2 separate regions of the Homo sapiens genome follow, and region 1 is linked to region 2. The links come from fine-mapping of genetic effects on gene expression. A gene starts in region 2. The other region holds a variant in brackets. All regions are shown on one strand. Distances are between the middles of the regions.

Region 1 (8,337 bases), 320 kb after region 2:
TAGGGTTGGAAAATGTGGTTTCAAAGGTATACATATGTATTGTTTTCTGATGTGGTAAGTTCATGTGGACATCTATAAGCAATTTCCTTGTCATCTCAGTTGAACTGTTATCATCTCTAACACACAATTGTCAAAATTCACTTCTGAACCTTGCTAGTGTGCACACCTGTGCCTTTGCATCCCTCACCATTCAGTGAGTTGACAAGTAACTGCAGATCTGATGCTCTGGCCTTTGTCTCATTCAGACCTTGAAATTGTTCTTCTCCTCCCCCATGTCCACATAGCATCTCCTCAACTCTGATAACATACTTTTCTAGTGTTTTGTGAGCTTTAGTTGCTGCCATCCTGCCTAGGTGTTGAAGATTGCCAGTTCTAGTAAGTTTGCATTTTGCAGACTCTACCATGGTATCTCTGCCACCTTTGCTGTTAGTAGTTCTGAGCTAAGGAGTTCTGGGTCTCAGCCAAAACAGTGAACTGTGTCTTTGTGTCCTTCATTTCCTTTCCCTCTTGTTTTTGCGTCTTTGCCATGGAAGTTTCCCTCTTCAACCTAAAGCCCTAGGTACCCTAAAGTGATCTACACAAACATGATGCCTCTCTGTAGTTTCATGCTTTGTTTTTAAAAATGTAGAATGCAAGATTTGCATTCTACTGAGATTTCCCAAACATTGTGCTAGTCCCAGAGAGGTGACAGAGAATGAAACAGACATGGTTCCTGCTCTCATGGGTCCATAGATGATGTTACCCTATATTTATTGAGCACATATTACATGACAGACATTTTTCTGCATTCTTTACATGTACAAGATTTGCATTCTACAGCATAATTTATTCATTTGTTAAATAAACGAATGATCTAAATTACTACCAGTTAAAACGTTCATCTCCCTATGCTTCCAATATTTAAGAAAAACATAATTTGCAGGAAAATAAGCTATGTTTATCCTGTGGCTTTGCACAATCTTTTGACACATGGCTCCAAACCTCCAAGGAGTCAAAGTATTCCTCTTTGAGAAACATACACTATCTTAGTCAAAGAAATTAAGCTCTAACTGTGAGATTTATGCTAAGTAATATTGCTTATGAAGGCAAAGACTCTCTCAGAAAGCTAGAAATTATATCACAGAAAAGACTACCTCCTTTAGATCCAGTCCTACCAACCAGCCATTCTAGTTTCTGCCCATGTCTCATTTGACCCATGTAAGTGTTTACTGTCTCTCTTTTGACCCTAACTACAGGTACAAAGAATCTGAGATTTCTGTCTCTGACCCTTAAGTGTAATCTCATACTATTTAATGTTTTTTGACTTTAATATTGCCAGTCATTTGAAGATATATTTTATTCATTTGCCTTTCAATTTTTTTGTATTGCTATTTCTCTGGCTTAGATATTGCCAGTATGTTCATTTTTAACTCTGTGGTTTAACCTCCATGTACACCATTATTAAAATCAATTTTAAAAAGTCATAAGCATGCTGTGGAGACCCATCACTGAACATTTTTATGAATGATTTAGAGTGGGGCTAAATAATTACATTTTGTGGCTGAAAGACTCTCAGTTGATAAGTTAGAGGAATAAACCATTTTTTTGCCTTCTTAAATATATACTAGAGCTATGTATTTTTATATCCATTTTATAATGTAGAAGCATCTTGATAGCACAGTTGAGAACTCCAGGGGATTTTGCCTCCATCCACATTTCTCTAAATCTGACTCCTTAAGTATTTGGGAAAGAACTTGGTTAAGTTTAAGTATCAACATCATGAAGAGTTGTGTGGGGCATACAAAAGGAACAATGTCTTACCCCTAGCAACTGGGGAATAAGGAGACACAGTAAACATGTATCAACAAATATATCAAGGGCTTAATGGGTAGCAAAGAATGAAGTGATTAAGTATTCATGCCCTCCACATGTATTCACTAAGCTCTGCTACTTCCCAAACATTGTGCTAGTCCCAGAGAGGTGATAGAGAATGAAACAGACATGGTTCCTGCTCTCATGGGTCCATGGATGATGTTACCCCATATTTATTGAGCACATATTACATGACAGACATTTTTCTGCATCCTTTACATGTACTGGTTGTTAATCTTTACAATAACATTATGAGGTATGAAATACATTTATTTACAACTAGGAATTGTTGGAACCAAGATTTGAACCCTAGCATTTCTCTCCACAGCACAGAGCCCTTGACTTCCCCACTGTCCTCCTACATTATCAGCCGGTATGTCCAGAGTTATTGACCTATAAGCTGTGATTAGTGCTAAGAACACCAGGTGCTGTGAGAATTTAATTGGGATTGGTAAATGTGGGTTCAGAGAAGGCTACATAGAGAATAGTTAAAAGTAGCCAGTGAAGTGTGAACGGAACAGAGACTGGACCAAGTCATAGAGCTTGGTGTGTTCAGCTTTTACCTGACTAGAGGAAATTTCCAGATAACATTCATCCAATCCTTAATCTATGTTCTTAACTCTTTCCAGGATGTACTATTTGCCTGCATTGCTCTTCGCACCTGACTGTACAACCTAAAGGAGCCCTCCCCTTGCTTTTCTGTAGCTTTGAATCCAGTCCCTTTAAAAATATTTTCTGGAGGAGAGGAAGATAAATGTGTTTCTGTCAATTGCATTCTGCTGGGGGCTAAGCCACATTGCAGCTGTGTTTGTGATGCTGAAGGCGTCATTCTTGTAACTGTGAGAGGATGGGTCTTTCTAGGAGTCAGCACACATAATTCCTTAGAGAAAGAATCTTGGGCTTTTCACTATCAGAGTCATCCTCATTCTGGTTTTAGCCTTTCCTGGATAGGGATAGGTTTCAGCCACTAGAACTCTGACAGCTCTCTTAACTTACTGCTTCTTGATATGATATAACTCCACAACCTGAGATCTCTACTTCATTTCATAGCCAATCTTGTCTTAATCGGACATTTGAGGGAATCCATCTATCTCTCTCTTTCTTGCCTCCACAATCTGAATCACACAAATTCATTTCTGAGAGTTCTTTTGAATTTTTCTTCTTTATGTGACCTATAATATTCACCCCTGCCTGGCTATAAGGGACTATTATTCTTTTTTCACATATCCTAATTTGTAAGACCTGAACCTCTCCAAGAAAGTGGAGAGAAGAAAGTGCTTAACTCATTTCATTAAACTTAATTTGTAGTCTCTAGGCATATTTGTATATTATTTACCTGCTACCCTTTGAATGCAATAATATGCCTTAATATGTATGTCTATTTTCTCTAGCAAGATAGTGTACTCTTTAAGGTGAGCACCATGCTTTTATAAAATAATTTTTCTCAGAATCCTGTGTGTTGATCAACCATGGATACACAGGAACGTGTCTTAAATAACTAATACTGTGGTAATTCTTTATTCAGTTGTCTGTGATTTTTTTTGTGTAGTGCCAACCTTGAATTTAGTTTGTCAGCTAAAAATACATCCTTTATTTTATATTAACTAATGATAAACAATTTAATCATTGATTGACCTTTCTTAACTTCCTTACTTTTGGCATTGAGGAGTATTAGCCTTTACACACTTTGGTTTCCACTGCCCTTTAAATAAATGTCCGAATGCCACAATTAACTTAATAGATTCTAAAGAAAGACTCATAGCAAAGGCAAACTAAACAAAGTAGTCAACCTACCAACCAACATAAAACAGTCTTGAGAATAGAAAAAATCATTTATGGCCATCTTTTAGAGATGCTAGTGAGATTCCTGCACTGGTAAGGTTGACCCAAGATTACCCTTAAGTTTCTTTCTAAGATGCTATTTTAAAATTTACAGGATAAATTAAAGAAGAAGATTAAAAGGAATGTTAATTAGCATAGTAAGTAGAAAAATGAGGGCTTTGGAATTTGTTGTGAGAAGGGCAATAGTTATTTTGAGTTAGATGCTAAGTGCTGTGTGATGCTCTCAAAGCAACCATGATAAATTATTAAGTATTTGTAATTTATTATACACATCAGAAAATATATTGCAATGTGAGCTGATGTCACTCAATAGCACTGGCTGAGGCATTTGTCTAGAATGTTGTGTGAGATTGAGGAAGCAGTGGACTCATTAGTAACTCACATTGTTGCAGGAGACTGTGTTTTTCTTCCTATGAAGTTTTTTTTACAACTTCAAACTAGAAAATGAAGAATTATAAAGACATATTTACATTGTTCAGTTGTCTTGGTGAGACTTCTGCCCTCTGAAATTATTGAGATAATACTAGTATTTTCCAAAACATGAATTTGACTTCTATTTGAAGTAATGTTTTCTAAATTCTTTATTAATATTTTGGGTTTTTGACTTTTTAGTTATCTGTGAATGATATGAAATGCTATTAATCTATTGTTTGTTAACCTAGTTACAAGCTACATGTCCTATTATGCTCAGTGCAATTTTATAAAGAATAATTTATACTAAACATGCAAAAGCATGCCTCAGGTAAGGATTAATGCATAAGCCCCTA[G/C]AGATTACCATTTTTCACAGAATCTTTGCAACCTGAGTATTTTCATGTACTGATTCAAAGCACATCATTGAATTTGTATTTGGAAGAGAATAAAATATATTCTTGCATTTTATTTCTTAGCAATTGTAGGAGCTCTTGTCATATGCTGTGGTTTGTTAGCTCTGGCACACCTTGAAAATCTTTATTTCCCATTACTCCTGAAAATTATTTTAAAAATCATCCTCTATTTTAACTAACGCATTTTTCCCTTGGATATTCTAAATTTTACCTCCATTCCAATGCATTCAGTATCATCTCTGCTCACAGACAAATTGTTTCACTGCCCTTGAGAGGATTTCCTGAAAACTTCAAAAGTATCTCTCCATCTGCACCAAGCAGTGAGCCTGCTGGAGAGAGGTGGAAGCAGAAGTGAGGGGGTATGTGAGTGCCAGATGGATGGGGACAGAGGAGGCTTGGAAAAGCAGACAAAGAGAGAGTTCAGGAACAGGCCAGGGCATAGCAAAGAGCAAGGATTATGAATACAAAATACACCTCAGTTGCAAGGTGAAAAGTAGCGGTCTCCAAGAATTCTGACTATGAATATCACTTATAATACTCGGCTCACATGAAAACATTTAATAATTGATAGGAATTATCAGCTCATAATCTTAACTATGTTTTGTAACCCATTAGAAGTTAGAAGGAAAAGTGGCCATGAAAACTAAATAGGATAACAATTAGGCTGATAGGATGATGGAATTGGATTATCAGAGGAAATGAAAACTTGGTTGAAGACCCATCATTATTATTTGTTTAATATTGTGCTTTCCCTTGTCTAGAACCTTGTCTGAGACCTCATCTGACATTCCTGAGGCAAAAACATATCACAGTCAGAAGGAGGACTCGGCAAGACCAGAGCAGTGTGTCCTCCCAAAAGAGGTTTTCCTCTTCTGTAGGACTGCCGATCCCTTGGTTAATTTCTAACCAACACTGAGCAATTTATTTTGTATGCCAGCCACTGTTCTAGCTGTTTTGCATGTGCTAGCTCATATAGCTCATGTCAGCTCTTATGAGGTCAGTACTACTACTATTGCCATTAAAATAAGGAGAAAACAGGCACAGAGAAGTTAAGTAGCTTCAGTAAGATCACACAGCCAGGAAATAGGAACTGGGTTTTGAGCACAGGCAGTCTGGCTGAGAGTCTTCATTCTTAATCACTGTTGTCTCCTTCCTATCTAATATAGCTCAGTAAGGGCTTTGCTCCATGAGAATCACATTCTAATTGGTGAAGACACAGGGCTATGATTCCTTTCTTATGGCCTCTGTTGATGGAGACTCCACATTCATCTTTAGCTTCTATATTCTTATTAATTCAATGAAATACATGAAAGTATAGTATAAATTGCAAAGACCAATACAAATATTATTTAATTATCTCCCAAACAGGGGAATTTGTCCCTTAGGTCCTCCTTAAGTTTAAGTTTCTTTATATTTTAAATCTTGTATGAGTACAGAATTCTGCTCTGTACTCATTCTGTATGAGTACAGAATTCTTCTCTGTACTCATTCTGTATGAGTACAGAATTCAAAAAGGATAGACACTAGCCTCATGTGGCTGTTTAAATTTAAATTTAAGGCTGGAAATGGTGGCTCATGCCTGTAATCCCAGCACTTTGGGAGGCTGAGGGGGGTGGATCACCTGAGGGCAGGAGTTTGAGACCAGCCTGGCCAACATGGTGAAACCCCGTCTCTACTAAAAATATAAAAATTAGCCAGGCATAGTGGCCTGTGCCTGCAGTCCCAGCTATGCAGGAGGCTGAGGCAGGAGAATCGCTTGACCCCGGGAGGTGGAGGTTGCAGTGAGCCGGGGTCGCGCCACTGCACTGCAGCCTGGGTGACAGAGCAAGACTCCATCTCAAAAAAATACAATAAAATAAAAAATAAAAATAAATTTAAAACTCAGTTTTTTAGTCACTCTAGCTGCATTTCATATGCTCAATTGTCCTATGACGCTAGTGGCTGCTGTCTTCAACAGCACAGCTATAGAATGTGGTCGTCATAGCAGAAAGTTCCACTGGCTAGCACTAGACAGATTACAAAAGGCAGTATTTCCTTTCAAATGGGGCAACATAATAATTAAATCACATTGGCATTGGACTATCTTATTTTTAAGCTTTTTTATGCTTATAGAATTAATATGATATAATGTCTCTTCCCCTTGGTCTTCTTGCTTACTTATTAATTCCTTTAAGCAAATTTCCTTTTTCTTGTTCCTTTCGTTTTCCTCCTTTTTTCTACTTCAATTCCTCCTTCCATACTGAGTATGTGTGAAAGCAGCTGCCAGAGCCCATTAAATGCATCAACACCTTTGCCTGTGGACAGTCTGCTTCCAGCCTTGCTTCCTCAGACAACCTTTTCTGACCTGCAAGAGGATTCTCTGATACAGCCAGATTGGACCTGAGGTTCTGCATCACCCTTGAATACGTATTTTTTTTTCCCTAAAAGTGTTCACACTTTCTTTTTAAAATAGTTTTGTAGTTCCTCCTATTATTATAAGGGTAGACGTCATATTTAATGTACATGTCAAAGATGGTATCCATATTATATTTAGTAAGTCACACAAGATGAACTATTTTATGTATCTTTTAGGCCAGCAAATGCTTTAACAGTGCCTTGCACTTTTTTTTTTTTTTTTTTGAGGCAGGGTCTAACTGTGTTGTCCATGCTGGAGTACACTGGCATGACCTTGGCTCACTGCAGCCTCCACCTCCTGGGCTCAAGTGATCCTCCCACGTCAGCCCCCCAAGTGTCTGGTACTACAGGTGCAAACCACCATACCCGGTTAATTTTTGTGTTTTTTGTAGAGATGGGGTTTCATCACGTTGCCCAGGCTGGTCTTGAACCCCTGAGCTAAAGCCATCCACCCATCTTGGCCTCCCAAAATGCTAGGATTACAGGTGTGAGTTACCATGCCTGGGCACCTTGCACATTATTAGTTTATACTTTAAGTTCAGGCACATGTGCAGGATGTGCAGGTTTGTTACATAGGTATACATGTGCCATGGTGGTTTGCTGCACACATTAATCTGTCATCTACATTAGGTATTTCTCCTAATGCTATCCCTCCCCTTGCCCCCCACCCCCCACCCCCCAACATGCTGCAGTGTGTGATGTTCTCCTCCCTGTGTCCATGTGTTCTTATTGTTCAACTCCCACTTATGAGTGAGAACATGCAGTGTTTGGTTTTCTGTCCTTGTGTTAGTTTGCTGAGAATGATGATTTCCAGCGTCATCCATGTCCCTGCAAAGGACATGAACTCATCCGTTTTTTAAGGCTGCATAATATTCCATGACGTATATGTGCCACATTTTCTTAATCCAGTCTATCATTGATGGACATTTGGGTTGGTTTCACATCTTTGCTAATGTGAACAGTGCCACAATAAACATACATGTACATGTGTCTTTATAGTAGAATGATTTATAATCCTTTGGGTGTATACCCAGTAATGGGATTGCTGGGTCAAATGGTATTTCTAGTTCTAGATCCTTGAGGAATTGCCACACCGACTTCCACAATGTTTGAACTAGTTTACAGTCCCACCAACAGTGTAAAAGTGTTCCTATTTCTCCACATCCTCTCCAGCATCTGTTGTTTCTTGACTTTTTAATGATCAGCATTCTAACTGGCATGAGATGGTATCTCATTGTGGTTTTGATTTGCATTTCTCTAATGACCATTGATGATGAGCTTTTTTTCATATGCTTGTTGGCTGCATAAATGTCTTCTTTTGAGAAGTGTCTGTTCATACCCTTCTCCCACTTTTTGATGGGGTTGTTTTTTTCTTTTAAATTTGTTTAACAGACCATTTGTCCAGTCACAAGTAGCAGAAACTTAA
Region 2 (8,337 bases):
GGTGGAGCTCAGCCTCTTTTTCCCCCCAGAAAATACTCGATGGAACCTTCTCAGTGTTAAACCCCATCTAAAGGGAGAGTGGAGTAAAAGAGAGAAAAGAGAGCTTCTGTGGCCATGGACAGATATGAGCATATAGGCACCCCTTCCCTGGGCTCCTCATTTCTCAGGTCTGCCTCCTTAGGCATTGCAAGCAAGTATTCATATATTTAAATGTGCTGCCTGCTGGCTGCCTGTGAGGAGAATGATTTCCTGAATGTAGTACATTTTAAATTTTAGTGAACGTCATTTCCTGGAACGTTTGCAAAACAGGCAGCTTCCCAGGCCCCATCCCAGCAAGTCTGATTCAAACAGCTCTGGGATAGGGCCCAGAAATCTGTGCTTACAATCAGCACCCCTGTGATTTTGAGGCAGGTGGTCCTTGCAACACACATAGAGAGGCACTGCCTTGATTAGTACAAGTTTTATGAGGTTTGCCTAAACAGGTGTTGCAGAGGCTAACTGTGACCTGCCCTTATTGTCTTGTCCTTGACCCCTGATTACATATCACCTGCCTACTAACTGCCAGCCCCTGCATTTTTTTTCCAGAGGTCTTTACATGATCTCTGGAGGCTGCTTTGCCATCCATGTGATAGGCTAGAATTGCCAGAGAATAAACATCATCTGGTAGCAGTTCTTAACTAACATCTTATAAGTGTTGGTGTATAGATACCCCAGCTCCCTCATCCCTCAGTTGGACCCACTCTCTGCTGTGTGTTTTACACTGACTTCCAGAGTTCCCCACTGGGATTAGGTACCAGGTGCCTACAGTGATACCTAGCTTGATAATGCACCCTTTATTGGCTCACTTCCCCACCTGAGTACTGGGATTCCCTTCACCTCTTAAACTACCTGCTCTTGAATCCTTGTTTCAGGTTGTGCTTCTAGGGGAACCCAAATGAAGCCAGTAGAGATGCCCATATACCATATGTCAGAAATTCTTAAAGAATCTTTCCCATGACTCCTGTATGCAGGTATGAGTTGACTGTGGAAGTGCAGAACACACTCATTCATGACATTGGTGTCATGAATCTCATTGGCTCTATCTGACTGTCAGTCTAACATGTCTGATCTTGCTTCTAGCAGCCAGTGTCTAATAAACTGAGCAAAACCCACATGGTACACTCACTGCCATGTGCAGATGGTCTAGCAAGAAAAATATTGTCTTCGTTTCCAAAAGAAACAAATCCCATTCCCACTTTCCCCTGTCAGCTTTGCTCCATGTGGGAGCATCATGCTGTCGATATTTCTCTTGGGTGAGTAGCCTGCAAAGGTTCTCAGCCTTAATGATTACTCCAAAGCAGGAATTGTGGCATAAATCTCCATGTGTGGAATATGTATCACAGCTTGAGTTAAATGGACCCCAAACATATGGCATTGTTTTTTGCATTTTCTAACACATGGGCAGTTTCTCACATTTTAAATCAACTGAAAATGAGAAGATTATAGGCAAATCTTCCTGGAGGATTAACTACTAGGAAATATACTTGGTTTGAATAAACATTTGGGGTGGGATGGAGGATGAGGTCAGACACTTTCCAAAGACACAGTGTGTATTGCAGAGGGTGGGATCCCAAGGGGAGGCAAGGTGGATGACTCTAGAATAAGCTGCATGTCTGGACGGCCTGGTCTTCAGACACTCTCCCCTGACTCAGATTGCAGCAATGAGCAAGCAGCATCATGGTGTTTGGCCCTGACGAATAGAGGTTGTACAGCCAATAACTTTTTCCTGTGAATGTTACTGATAAGGACCAGTCCCTCCTGGAGACAATCTTTCTTCCTGTGTCCCAGTGTTGCTATCAGTCTGGGCGAATTATAACCTGTACATGGGCAAATTATAACCTGTACAGAAGGCTGTGTCACTTGCTCAGGGGCTACTAGATAAAGCCATTGGAAACACTGAAGAATATATAGAAGGGCTCTATTTCTTATTGACCAGATTCCATGTAGGATTTGAGTGATGGTTCTATTTTGAGTATCAAGAGTTAAAGATGATGCAAAACGAAGCATCGGACTTGCACTTTCCTTAGGAGAGATCAAGTCTAGTTTTCTCGCAGAAGGCTGCACCAAAAAGGGCAGCGATGTGCCTGTAAGACATCAGTTCTCTGCAGGTAATGATCAATAGGGAAAGGAGAAAGGCAGCTCATTAGGCATTTCTTCCCCAAGAGGCTCACTCGGCCTCCTTAGGCTTCCAAAGCCACAGCCAGCCTTATTGCCCTTATTATTAAAATGGGCCCACTAGAGCACCAGGCTGCTGCCCTCTTGGCTCATGCCAGGCAACGACCCAACTGGCCCTGCAGCTGGCCTCTAGCCTACCCTGAAGACGATGTGTGGTCAGCAGTTGTCGATGCCCAACGTATTTGCGGGCCTCCTCTGCCTTTCCCCTCCGTCGTGTCTCTTTTCCCCTCAAATTTATCAATGCACACGTAGTAAATGGTCTAAAACGGACTTATTCATACCTCTACGTTATCTGTGATATCATTGCTCAGACCGGGATCATGGGTCTGGAGTTTGGGGTGGAGTGGGCTTCCTGCTATAGAAATCAGGCCACTGCACTTACTTTACACTTCTGGGGGAGGAGGGATCTCTTCCAGTCCCTAAGAAAAGAAAATCTTTAAAGCGTCTTACACGCAGGCGTGCAACCAGGAAGTCCACCCAGCCCCATCTCCGCATAAATTAGGAGCTCTTCCCTCTTCCCACCTTCCTTGTCCCAAGTGGCACCGGACACTGATCACCCTCTTCAGAGCTGCACTAGACATTCACAGGGAATTGAGGTTCCCTATGCAGAAAGGTTTTCAGACAGAGGACCCAGCCCATTTTCTCTCTCCAAATCCTCCTCCCTCCCTCTTTTGTGGTTGCAGCTATAAAATAATGATTCAACAATCAAAGAGCCTCTCATGAGATGGGAGAAGGAAGGGAACGAAAGGGGAAGAGGTGCCCTGGGCTGAAAACCTGTAGATTTTTTCTAAGTGACAAAGGGCAAGGGTCCTTTTTTGAAATTAGGAGAGAGACAGCTGTTTCCTCAATCGAAACTTCGCACATTACAACCAGCCTTGGGAAAAGCCAACACCACCAGGGAGGAAGTGCTATGGGGTTTTGAAGCCAGACACTGATTTCTGGCTGTAATACTTTCCAGCCGTGTCTCTAAGCCTCGGCTTCTGCCTCCATCTGTAGAGTGGGCTTAATAATTTTGACCATCTCACAGAGTTGATGTGAAAATTAAAATAACCCGAACAGAACAGGCGATATATACAGGAATTAATGAAAGATTCCTGACATAATGCTTATAAGTTCATGATGCTTAGGAAGATAAAATTCATTGTAGAGATGCCGAACGGGGGTCTAGAGCTTGCCTTTTCGGGGTCTCTCCCGTCCTTCTCCATCCTCCTTATCTCCTGGGCTGCCCCCTCTCCCCCCGCGCCCCGCTCTCCCTGGCTCGCCCGGGCCTAGGGCGCCGCCTGCAGTTGCGCGCGGCCGCCTCTAGATGGAACTTTCTCACCAACGCAAGGCCCGGCCGGAGCAGCTACCCGGGAGCTGGGCGGCGAGGGGCTACTTTCTCTCATTCCGGCGGGTGCAGGATCGGGGGGCCTGGGCAGTAACTAGTGGGGAGGAGCGCTGGACTGTGCACGTCGAGCCCGGCAGGTTTCCGCATGCGGCATGCGAAGGGAATCCCGAGGTTTCCCTGCAGAACCCGAGCACGGCTCCCCCGGAGTTTCCTGCCCCGCGTCTGCGGCTCCTTGAATCATCTCAATAAAATGACCGTCCCGGTAGCCACCCATGCCCCTTCCTGCGCAGTGCCCGCAGCGGACCGCGCTGTGTGGTACCTCGAGCCCTGGGGACTCTGTTGCACGCGTCCCTCAGACCCTCGGGGGCGGGGAGTGGGGAGACAATCGCCAGAGCCGCGGGGCGGGACAAATGGCGGAACCGCCGCGCGGCGCCAGGCAAACTTTGCAAGGGAACCGCGCGGCTTGCCGGCTCTACTTTAAGCATTCCCGAAAAGAAAGCATGTGGCGGGACACTTGTCATCTACCATGTGTTATTCTCGGTGACGCTTTCTGGAGCTGTGTTCACCGGGGACCCGGGCTCGCGGGTGCTGCCCGCTGTGCTCGGGCGGGCGTCGCGCCTCCCCGCGCCGGTCCCGGGCTCGCCAGGCAGCCGGAGCCGCTGGGCTCCTCCACAACCATATTCCTTCTTCTACCGCTCCCGCTTCTTCCCACCCTCTCACTCTGTAGTTGGGTCCTCCCCTTTTTCTTGGGGGCGGGGAAGGGGGGATGATTTTTAAAAATCAGAACTATTGACATTTCTGGTCTCCTCGTCGCTTCAGGCTGAAGAGCGGAGGGGGATCCGCGGGCCGAGGGTCCCCCTCCCTGCCCGCGCCAGGGCCGCTGGGTGACACCGAAATCCAGAGGCTCCCGCCCCTCGGGGGTTCCTCCTCCCGCTTCCCGAGGTGACTGGTTGGCGCGAAGCGATTGGCGATCCCGGGCGCGATCCTGGCCGCGGCTCCCCGCGCCGCGCCGGGTGAATGGCCGCGGGCGGAGGATCGGGAGGCGCCGGGCGCAGACCAATCGCGGCCGCCGGTGGGAGTATTTGTTATTCACATGGAAGAGACTTGGCGCCTGCTAGGCCAGCTCAGCCCCCTCAGCCCAGAGATCAGCCACAAGTGCGGCCGCTGTGCTCGCCTCACGCGGCGGCGGCGGCGGCGGCGGCGGCGCTGACATGGAGCTGCGGGCCCCCGGCGGGCTTCCTCACCGCGCCCTCTGCGGGGAGCAGGGTAAGACTCGCCGCCCGGCAGCAGAAAGCGGCTCCGAGGAAAGCAAGTGCCGAACCACGGGACAAAAAGCCCCTGGCCCCCAAACTTCCCCAAAACGCCCTGCTTGTTGGAAAAGGAGAATCCCCCCGTTTTATTCCCCTTTCCGTTTTCTTCTCTAAAACCTTTCAGCGGACAGCCAGGTGCACCATTCCTTCTCATATCACTCTAGTGATTTGTTTTTCCTGAGCACAAGTAGATGGCCCTGCATGTCCGTAGTCTGTGAGAGAAATAGCGGGCGGAGGTGACGGGAATGGGGGGAGAAGGAGAGTGGGCACCAGGGGGCGAGGGGCTGGCCGGGCATTGGAGCTTGATTGGGTGTCTGTTGATTTTACGTTGCAAAGAACAAGGCAGCCACCCCTCTTGTCTGCCCATGATTACATTACAGTAAAGAGGTTCAGAAAAGAGGGAGACTTTACCCGGAACTCCCAAGGCTTGGAGATGTGATCCCCCAAAAGTTTAGTCGGCGAATGGGAGACTGAAGGGTGACGGGAAGGGGGCAGGCGCGCTCGGCGCTCTGACTGGGCGTGCGGCGGCAGGATTTTAAAGCGCTCTGCCTCGGATCGTCTGCCCTGGGTGACCTCCCGGACCTGCCCTGGTGGAATCCGGACTTGCCCCGCCGAGATGACGAGGTACCTTCGTTTCGCGAACCTAACAGGAGGGATTTCTGAAGTTAGCGGCTTCCGGGATGAGTCGGGGTAACCCCCGCCCTCTGAGCGTGGGCTGGATGGATGTCTAACCAGGATCTAGGGAGGATGGGGGTCGCGGGGGAAGCCGGGCGCTTCGGGGTCCTCGACACCCACATCCCCGCACGGCGCACGCTCTGCCTCGAGTTTGCGTTCTCCGAGTTAGCACGGCGAGCTTGGGATTTCCGTGCCCCTCTTTTGTGGCTTTCGAGAAACGCCGGAGTTCCGTGTCCTGCTGGGGGTTGGGGGGATGGAGAAAAGGTCTCGGGGATCTTGTTTAAAAAGCAAAGGCAAACGCACCCCAACAGCTCCTCGGTAGCTCCCGCGGCTGGCGCGGCCCCAGTTTCGGGCGGCCCCGCGCGGGGCGTGGGCGCGGGCGCTCGGGCGGCCAGGTGCGGCGGGGGCGGAGGCTGCATCCCCAGCGCGCCGGAATGCCCCGGGGCGCGGGAAAGGCAAAAGCAGCCTGGCGCTCTCCCCACGGCCCCAGTCTCTATCTACCCAGAACCCGGCTTCAACAGCCCAAGGAACTGAGAAGAAAAAGGAACCTGCGCTGGGAAACAGGGGCTCCTGGCGGGCTGAGTGGTCGCTGTTATGGTAGAGATAGAAACGGAGAGGTAGAGATGGACCGCTCAGCCATGCCAAGCGCGAAGCCCATCCGCCCAGCCAGAAAGCTCGGATATCCCTTGAGCTTCGTACAGTTGGTGAAAAAATAACAGAATCACCAAAAAAGAAAAAAAAATTCCCTTCGTCTGACACGCGCTCCCTTGGTGCAAATGAAATGCGGAGGGACACGCGAGTCACCCAGTTGCGCAAAACCGCACCCCCGCGGTTCCCTGGGGAATTACTTCCCCCGTGGCCCAAACTGTGAAGCCTGGTGTCAGAGAGTGTCTGCGCACCCAAGATAGCGGGGGTGAAAACAGACCCCCTCGCCGGTTGCAGAAACCCTTAAGTCCCCTAAGCAAGTCCCACCCCGGGAGGGAGTGCCTTATTTGCCATTTGGGGGATCCTTTCCCACAAACCTGAAGGTGCGGGAGTCTCTGGAACACCCAAGAATACACTAGAGTCTGGGCTACTACCGCGATTGAATACAAATCCTGCCAACTGACAGAACTGGAAAACAGGGTTGGTGGTGGAGATACAAGAAAAATCATGAACGGGAGAAAAGCATTCCTATGGTAGCTTGTATTTTGCTTGAAAGAAAAATAGAGAAAAAGAGCCACCAGCAGGTAGATCGTGGATAAACAGCTTATTGCACTTGCCTGTAATTTCCACTTTCCGTTATGAAATTGTTTGTCAATAATTGCAAATGGCTACAGAAACCACTTTAGTTTACCTTGGTCACTTGCTTGTGAATAATACCGTGAAAGATCTCTGTAGGAGGCAGAATCAGCTGTGTGCAATTCATTCTCTGGTTCTTGAAAACGTGTGGCTTGATAATTTTGAAAAGAAAAGCTTCCTCCGTCAGGGAAAATGAACCAAGGTTTTTTAAAATGCAATTTTTCCATTTTAGAGTCAACTACAGGTTGTACCATGTCTAAGATAGAGAATTCTTGCTTTTGAATAAGGGATGTGGGGAGAAATAGATGACGGGAGGCTTTGTAGGAGACAATTGACCCGGAATAAAGAAGAAGATACTGAGAACACAGCTGTATACTGTTCCTTAGGCTCAATTTGTTCTGTTTGGATTGTGCTAGCTAGTTCTGCCCTGTTATGCACCGTTCGAAAGTTATGGCTGCTTGAATAATTCTAAAAACATCTACATCCAAAAGGAATAGAGAAAAGGAAGAGCTGAGCTCCAGTGAGTGCAGGAGAAAGTTAGAGGTCTGGAGAGATGTGCTCTTTTCAAAGTTGGCTGAGCAGGTTGAAGCTGCTGCGGGGCTTGTTTAATTGGTATTTATGCAGCAAATAACCCGTCTGACATTCACATTGGCAATTGCGTGCCAATCTTTGTGTATGAATGTTCCATTGTCTTCAGGGCACGATGTACAGCACACTACACACATGTTTTTTTCCTTCCAAGTTTCCTTCCTACCACCTTTCTCAGGTAGTTAGAATGCCCATCATAAAGATGACCTTGCTTTAGTTGGGGGGAGTGGAGTTGCTCTGTCCCAGTGTCTTAAAAGAAGATGCTGCTTGAATTTCTCTCTTCCTGGACCCACAGCCAAGACCTGGCCACATCTCCATGTCTGTCAAGTTGGCTGGCTTGCGGAGGTTCAGGAAACTTGCTGTTTTCTTGATAGACTCTGACTGGGCATCCCCAGACTCACAAATGTGGTTCATTCAATAGGGACGGCCACTTCATGTTGTTCCCAGGAGAGGCTATGAGCTGAGAGTTGGCTGGCTTATTGTTTCCATTTCAAGAGAGGGTTTTCTTTCTGCTAGGAATTGGAATTTAGATTTGGGCTTTCTCTCTTTTTTCTTTGATTTTCATTTCTACTTGGTAATTTGACAAATTGCGACAAACTCACCCACTCACTGGGAGGGACGCTGAGCATAATATTGTCTCATCCCAGGACACCCTTTCTCAGTGGTGGGCAATGCTGTTGGAATGATTTGAGAGGTACTGTTGAGACGCTCCTGACTCCTAGCTCTCTGCTCTGGCTTGTTGCATTGCTAGCCTTAACCATTATTAATGGTGATATTTCTTTGGTAAATAAATTATGGCTCTCCTAGGAATCATTTTGAGAATGCAGATGTTCCATTTGGGGATGACAGTAATGCATCTTCAGGCTTTGATACCTGCTAATGAATCCACTCACTCCCTGGGGAGGGCCAAGGTAATGAAAGAACAAAGGCACTGAGGGAAGG

Which allele goes with the higher level. Alleles are on the strand shown, and positions count from the first base shown. SD is a standard deviation of normalised expression in the study named.
With allele C in place of G in region 1, the expression in lymphoblastoid cells of the gene that starts at base 4,663 in region 2 is lower (moderate effect, 0.40 SD a copy in GEUVADIS).

The links. PIP is the estimated chance that this variant, and not a neighbour inherited with it, causes the effect. A credible set is the group of variants that fine-mapping cannot tell apart.
Region 1: its variant is the best candidate, but not a certain one, in a credible set for the expression of GRM8 in lymphoblastoid cells (GEUVADIS, PIP 0.51).

The regions. Positions count from the first base shown.
Region 1 is chr7:126,927,471-126,935,807 of GRCh38, reverse strand. The region is part of intron 3 of GRM8 (glutamate metabotropic receptor 8); the gene reads left to right. Among named protein-coding and RNA genes, the nearest start is that of MIR592, 130 kb to the left of the region's middle. The variant G/C (reference allele first, on the strand shown) is at 4,461.
Region 2 is chr7:127,249,267-127,257,603 of GRCh38, reverse strand. GRM8 (glutamate metabotropic receptor 8) reads left to right here and starts at 4,663. Exons shown (of 11, transcript NM_000845.3): 1 at 4,663-4,807. RefSeq lists a silencer at 3,396-3,455 and an enhancer at 3,576-3,825.